2 linked regions of the Homo sapiens genome follow. The protein of the gene in region 2 interacts with the protein of the main gene of each other region in a pairwise test. Each region holds a gene or a part of one and is shown on either strand. Other genes may lie near its edges.

What was found. The genes of interacting proteins can lie anywhere in the genome.
Region 1: the proteins of SP2 (region 2) and NFYC interact in binary tests that used the Homo sapiens proteins (3 or more experiments, as listed by UniProt).

Annotation. Positions count from the first base shown.
Region 1 is NC_000001.11:40,768,136-40,771,861, reverse strand, and holds the end of NFYC (nuclear transcription factor Y subunit gamma), read right to left. Parts: intron 2,507-3,726; coding exon 2,447-2,506; intron 1,466-2,446; coding exon of another isoform or gene 1,154-1,465; coding exon 1,034-1,153; 3' UTR 259-1,033; downstream 1-258. UniProt on the Homo sapiens protein: Component of the sequence-specific heterotrimeric transcription factor (NF-Y) which specifically recognizes a 5'-CCAAT-3' box motif found in the promoters of its target genes.
Region 2 is NC_000017.11:47,894,736-47,898,335, reverse strand, and holds the start of SP2 (transcription factor Sp2), read right to left. Parts: upstream 2,101-3,600; 5' UTR 2,050-2,100; coding exon 2,043-2,049; exon of another isoform or gene 1,999-2,042; intron 1,600-1,998; exon of another isoform or gene 1,490-1,599; intron 522-1,489; exon of another isoform or gene 409-521; intron 1-408. UniProt on the Homo sapiens protein: Binds to GC box promoters elements and selectively activates mRNA synthesis from genes that contain functional recognition sites.

The sequences.
Region 1 (3,726 bases), on a different chromosome or scaffold from region 2:
TGAGCCCAGGAGATTGATGCTGCAGTGAGCAGTGATCACACCACTGCACTCCAGCCTGGGCAACAGAGCCAGAAAAAAAAAGATCGGCTAAGGACCTCAGTTTGAATTAGGTACACAGCATTAAGTTCCCTTAGCTTTGAACATCTCCTTCTCACAAGGGTGGCCCTCTCTCCCAGACACACAAACTGAGGGCAAATGAACCTTTCCAAGCAAAGTGGCCCCATGAATGCCCCCAGACACAGAAACCCAGACTCTAAATTATCTAAAATGAGATTTATTGCATTTCATGCAGCTTGAAGTCCATGCAAAGGAGACTAGCACAGTTTTTAATGCATTTAAAAAATAAAAGGGAGGTGGGCAGCAAACACACAAAGTCCTAGTTTCCTGGGTCCCTGGGAGAAAAGAGTGTGGCAATGAATCCACCCACTCTCCACAGGGAATAAATCTGTCTCTTAAATGCAAAGAATGTTTCCATGGCCTCTGGATGCAAATACACAGAGCTCTGGGGTCAGAGCAAGGGATGGGGAGAGGACCACGAGTGAAAAAGCAGCTACACACATTCACCTAATTCCATCTGAGGGCAGAACAACGTGGCAAGTCTTGGGGGTAGCAGCTGTTCCCAGAGTCAAGAAATACCGTACACCCCTGGGGAGATTTGCTCCTAAAAAGAAGTGGCAGTAACAAACAAAAAAAAAAGAAAAACAAAAGGAGAAATATTTCTTCAACCACACTCTTCAAGAAAATGCCATAAATATGTTATTTAATATTTTAATTTCATAGCATTGGACACACACTCAACATATTGAAATATTGATTCCTTAGAGAAAAAAATGGAAAAAAAGGAAACAAAAAATATTGCATCTTTCTGCTGGAGAATCTCGGCCCCCAGGCATGGGGTGTAGTGCACCAGTGTCCTAGCCTGCAGGAGGCGCTGAGGTCGGCCGGGTCCTCTGGGGAGGAAGGCTGTGCCCATTGCCTGGGGCTGTATGGCAAAAATTGTGTTGGGTGTCCTTGGCCTTGCCAGCTCAGGCCCTCAGTCGCCGGTCACCTGGGGGGCCTGCCCGTCGGAGGGCTGGTTGGCTGACTGGATGAACATGGGCTGGGCGAGGTCCTGGCCCGCAGGCATGGTGACTTGCTGGATCTGGTAGAGCTGCTGCGAGGGGTGGAGAGGAGAGAGTGAGGTCATCCCTGGGAGAGGGGCATGCAGCTCCCTATGGGTCTCGAGCTGGTTGGGGGTCCCAGATACCTCAACCACCACCCACTGCAAGGCGTCAGAAGGAGGAGGGGAAGTGGAGCTCTGCTGGGGTTGGGAGCAGCAGACACAGGAGGCACCAGCCCGGTGTGAGGGGGGGTGTGTGGTGGGCAGGGAAGAGGTGCAGGGAGTTGAATTTCCTGTGGCTTTCACTTCTCTGGGCTCTGCCTCTCCCGTTAGCTCAGAGACTCGAGCTTGCTGCACGCTGTTCCTCTGTGGCAAACACAAGCAATTCGAACCACTGTACCAGCAGCTTGGAAGTCAGCATTTCCCCAACTCTTGGTAATCTACACTGGCAGGGGCAGTAGGATTACCCCCTCCTCTCCTTCTTTTCTCAGAATATCTGGCTCAGGTTGAAACTAAACTGAATTTGAATTTTCTCCATGGACCCTGCTAAGGAGGTGGCCTGGTATTAAACACTTAACTATAGCCAAGACGCTCCAGGGGTGGAGAAGATACTCACACAGCCACTTAGGAAGGTCAGGGCTAATTGACTACTTGGTTTCCCAGGCGCTCCCCAAAGAAGCCAAAAGCCAAGCCCTCATGGGAGCCCTGGCATGTAAGCCTAGCATGTGGTGCTGGCAGAAGCCAGAGGTGGGTCCTGATGCCAGCTCTTCTCCCTTTTGAGCAGCAGAGGGCACAAGTTTGGGCATGTCATCCTATCATGTCCTCAGTGGTCTCTGGGACTGTACTGTGAGGGGAAAGCAGAGGGAAAAGGGAAGATTCTCTCCTCGCATGGACTGAAAATGACTGAATTTCAGGCACCCAGAGAGCTCAAGAGGTCACGTGTTCTCTGCGTCTCAACAGTCCATGCTATTAAAACAGCATCATGGCTTAGAGGGGAAAAAAATACAGTTCTAGAGAGGGAAACAGGAAACCTGCTCTCTAGTCCTGGCTCTGCAATGAACATCTAGGGGAGCATGGACAAGGCACTTCCCATCTCCAGGGTTCAGTTTACTCATCTGTAAAATGGCAATTTGGGCTACATGTCTAAGATTATTTTAGTTCCCACTAAGTCTATAAAACTAAAGGATAGGTGCCCTGATTTAAATACCGTACTTGTTTTAACAATTTCTGTCCACTCACTGTTAGTAGAGGACAGGACAGTTGCCCTAACCATCCAAACCCAGATACTACCTGCTACCCTGCCCCGCAAATCCTCACCCTCTGCCCAGCCCAGGTTGGGTACCCTACCTGTCCATCTGTGAACTGGCTGAACTGCTGCTGTCCTTGCTGGACCTCTGTCTGTGTAATCTGTAAGAATCAAGATGGTAGAGTTGGTATGTCAGCTGCAGGGTCTGATCCACCAGCCCACCACCCAAAAGAGGGTCATAAAGATCAAATGAGACAATGCATATAAAGTGCCCAGCAGGTGCTCAATGGGTAGTAAGCAAGCAAGCACCCCTCCTAATCTAGCACTGATGGCTACGTCAAGAGTTGGCAGCACAAAGTGACATCGAGAATCCTGGAGCACATAATAGATAGTTCCCACACCCATCTCTCTAATGAATGCCTACTCCCTCAACCACCCACTCATCTCAAACTCTGAGGCTCAAACAGAACACATGGACCCTAGGTGCTATGGTTTGGGGTAGAAGTCCTAAGAGTCAGTCTTTCAGCCAGTGAAGGCGGACTGCAAAGTGTCAGACAAAGTGGTAAGTGGCCTCTTTCATTCTTGGAAGGTGGGCTCCAAACCAAACCCGTATCACCCAGATCATCTGACTGGAATATGAAACACCCTGGCGAGCAAGTGGCCTTGGTCCCAGCAGTCCTCATGGCAAACCTATGAAGTACTTTTTCCGAGAGAGGCACTGTGCAGCCCTCTGGGCCAAAGGAGGGGAGGAGAAAAGGGGAGGGACCGGGAGTGGAACAAAGACAACATTTATCACAAGTACTTAAAATCTTATGTGTGGACTGTGAATGGATTTTAGATAAATGTACTGACATGTAGAACTGCATATATAATGACAACTGCTGGGAGCAGCTCGGTAAACTAGAAAGAAGACTGCGGTGTGCATGCACATGTGTTCCTATGGAACATTTGGCCAGCAGTGTCCTCTGTGTACCATTTCCTGGAATCATCACAGCCAGCCTGCAAGACAAGGACTGTCCTCTCAAATGTCCTCACCATGGCCAAAAACAACCCCTGCAGGCCTACCCATGAGGCTATGAGGAACAAGAAAGGGAACAGGTATGACAGGCTTCATGACTATTTTTTACTATTGTTCCTTATTTTGGTCCTTTTCCTTCCAACAGCCTATAAGATGCCTGAGGGCAGGAGCCCATACAAAGTTAGTATTCCAGAAATGTTGCAGAATAAACAAGTGAGCCTGAGACAAATGGAAAATATTCCACATAGATAAGAAGGTTAACTGCTCTGTGGCCAGCAGGATTGCCATTCATATTAGCTGAGATTTCATTTACCTTTACATTTTATTTACATATTATTCATTCAGCTTCATTCAACAAACATT
Region 2 (3,600 bases):
AAATATCCAAATGAACCAACCACTCTACTTGCTGAAATGCCATAAAGCTTCTTTACCCCAGACATTTGCCCAAATCTTATAATTTCTTTTCTCCTCTCTGACAGGCCTCTCCAGAGGCCCAAACTTTAATAGAATCTGAGAGAAAAAAGTGGCCAGTCTATCTGCTGTCCAGAGTGATGCCAAACTCTTTCTCCCGGAGCCAGTTCTCCCCGTTGGGCAGTCAGGTGAGGATCCGATTATTAACAAACTCTACTTGGGTCTCCTTGGCAAAGAGTTTCTGGCTTCAGCAGCCTAGCTCAGGGGGGTTCATAATTATGTCAGACTCGCTTTTTTTCTTGTAGTTGCTTTTAACCAAAGAGGTTAAGCCTCTGTACAACCAAGAGGAAGAACTAGAATTAGAAAACTTACCAATCGTCCCAGCCAATGATAATCCATTTCCAACAGGTATTAACGCCTGTTAGAAGCCACTGGAACACTGACATCATCAGCCCAATTGATAGGTTGTCTGATAGATTCGCCCCCTTCATCGCACACAAGAATTTAAAACAAAACAAGACACTGCAGTTATATTCATTATTGCAGACAATGGGTTTCTTTGTGTTAGTAATTGAAATTACTGCTGTGGTCTGGACTCCACCATTATTTCCTTTGCAGCCTGTGAGCCAGCCAACACTCTAAACTTTCTAGCCCTAAAAATTGTATCATCCAGAATACCAACTCAATACAGCCCTCCACTGTGAAACTGAATGCCTTCTGGGGTACAGCATGAAACCGTTTTAGACAGTGCATGCCAGTGCACCTTGAAACAGTGTCCATCTGTAATGAAATCTGTAAACGGGAAACTTGGGCCAATTCATTGTTTAAAGCAGATCTACTGGCTCATACCTTTCTCTAGGAAACAATAAGTGAACAAGAAGTAACCTCAGAAGAAGAAAGAACTTTGGGAGAATGCACTGAGAAAGGCCAGACTGAGTCCCCTTGGATGAAGTTAATTAAGAAACAAACATGACAGGATATTGCAATCAAAACCAAGGAATGCAGTGAGGACAGGTTTCTCAGTTGCCCAGAGGAGAAAACATAGTTCCTTCTGAACTAAAATTAGAAAGCCGCTGGCAAGGAAACATAAGAAGCATGGATAAGAGGCTGAAAACCGTAAGTCAGCAATGGGGATGGAGGTGGGTACAGGAAGAGAGCGAGTATCTATTTTGTTTTATTTCTTCTGTAATTCCTTAAGATTGTTTGCGCCTGAGCTTTGGGACTGCAGTAGTCTCCCCTACGGGGCGTCAAGTAACAGGCTGGGAGCTCTGGCAAGAAGTTCTCAAACTTCTCACAATTCTGCTAAGAGCTTGCAGATATCTAGCTGGAAGATCAAGGATCCAAGTAAAAACATTAAAGGAAGGTTTTTGCCCACTCCCCGGTGAGAGGTCATCTGCCCAGGGAGTGCTCTCGTGTCCTGACACCATCGCCCGACTGGGGATATATCAGTAACCGGGCTGTCGTCGATGCCGAGCAGTGCCCATCTGGTTGGCAGCGTCCGGGTCTCAAGCGTTCCCTCGCCCCTCTCTGTTCTCCGGGGAGCCCTGAATCGCTGGTGGGCATCTACAGTTAAGAGTGCAGGAAGGCCTCTCAGACACGGGGCGAACACAAGGGCTGTTGGCTGCCTCCTCAGAGCCGACCCAGGCATAGTTCGCCCAGGCGGGAGAGCGGCGTTGAAGTGGGTCGGCACCCGTCCGAGGGGTGCCAGGCCACCCCGGTGCCCGCTCCTCTCGCCGGCCCCCGGAAGCGCCGCCCTCCCGCCCGGCGGGCTCCGAGGGGGCGGGGAGTCGAACGCCCCCTTCCGGGTGCCTCCGCCCGGCTGGCCAGCCCCGCTCCTCCTCCGGGCGGGAATCCTCCCTCCCCCGCCCCTCCTGAAGCCGGGCCCCGACGCCAGACCCAGCCCCAGGGGGGAACCCCCGGCCTCGGCTCCCTCTCCCCGCGGCCTCTGCCCGTCTTCCTGACCCTTGGGGGCCGGGAAGACCCCGCCGGCAGCGGCCGGGACCCACCGCTCATTACGACATCTTCCTCCCTGGCCTCCGCCGCCTCCGCCGCCACCGAGAGCCTGACACCGCCCGCCAAGCAACCGCCAATCCCGGAGCCCGCCACCGCCCGAGCGACGGCAGCCTTCACCAATAAGCGCTTGGAACATTGGGGACCGACAGCACTATTAACCAATCAACCAGAGGCGTCTAGAGCGACGTTGATTTGACCAATAGGTCTGTGCAATGTCACTGATGGACGGTAGAGCGCACCAACCGAAAGCCAATTGAATAATGAGTGACATGTGCATCAGCCAATTGGAGGGAGGCAAAGTCCCGCCCGCTGGGTGGTTGATGTACAGCAACAGGAAGCTGGAAGGGGAGGGGCTTAGCCGAAGAGTGCTTTTGTATTGGTCGAGGTTGACCTTCCACCCACCTCTAACCCAGAGGATGAATGATAGATCTGCCCTGAAGCCAATCAGAAGTCCTTAGGGTGAGGCCCACAAATGCCCCAGAAATAGCATATACATTGCGCCCTAAGTCCAGTCTCGCCCAGGTGTGGCAGGAGCTTTTACCTGCTCTTCGGCAGTAGCCGGCTGCCACTCAACCCCATGCCTGGTGAGTGGAAAGCCATCAACCTTTTATTTAGTCCCTCTCTCGTTGTCGCCTGGGGAGGGGCGACTTTGTACAGTGAGGCACTGGGGTCCGGCACCATAGTGGGAGTTGGGGTTGTTTACGCGACACTTCTAAGGGGATTTTCACAATCGGTTAAGCCCCCGTTAATCCTCACATGGTTATTGCGGCGACCCCCATAGCCCACGGTCCCAAACGTGTGCATCTGAATCATCCGAAGCTCTTTCTAAAGGCAGGCTCCCCTGGCCGCCTCTCCTAATCCGACTCGGTACTTCACGGGGCGTGCCTAGAATCTGCATTTTAGCAAGGGCCTCGCGTGGACAGAATTGCACGCTTGAGTTTGAGAAGTACTGCTTGGCCTCTGCCCCACTTACCCTTACCTTCTTGAGATGAGGTAAAGCACTTGGTAGGCACTAGGCGGGTAGGTTTATCTTTGCTCCCAAGTCTCTTCCGAGAACTTGGGAAGGCTGCCTAGCTTAGTGAGGGAATCCATTCTGGCTTCAGACCAGTCTGGGTTTGAAACCTACACATCCCACTAACTTAGGCAGGGTACCGAAACTCCCTGAGCTTCATGTCCTCATCAGTAAAACGAGGTTAATCACACCTACACCTTAGCGCGATGGCTTAAAAAAAAAAAAAAAAAAAACAAACAAAAAAAAACATAGTCCATCAAGAGAAATACATTTTGCATACAGACCAGTACACTGCTATTTGTATGAGAGTGTCATAAAGTTTCCGAAAACAATGCTTACTACTTGTGACGCACTGATAGTTTCTATGCTTATCCTATCCTATCTTATTCTCCTTCTTGTTGATCATGACTGGCAGTTTGAAAAACACTGCTAGAAAAGGTTGGTGTGATAATACAAAATGCAGAGCAGAATACCGGGTACACAGTAATTGCTGAATAAATGTTAATAGCCTCTTCCAGTCTTCTCCTCTCAGTGTTAGC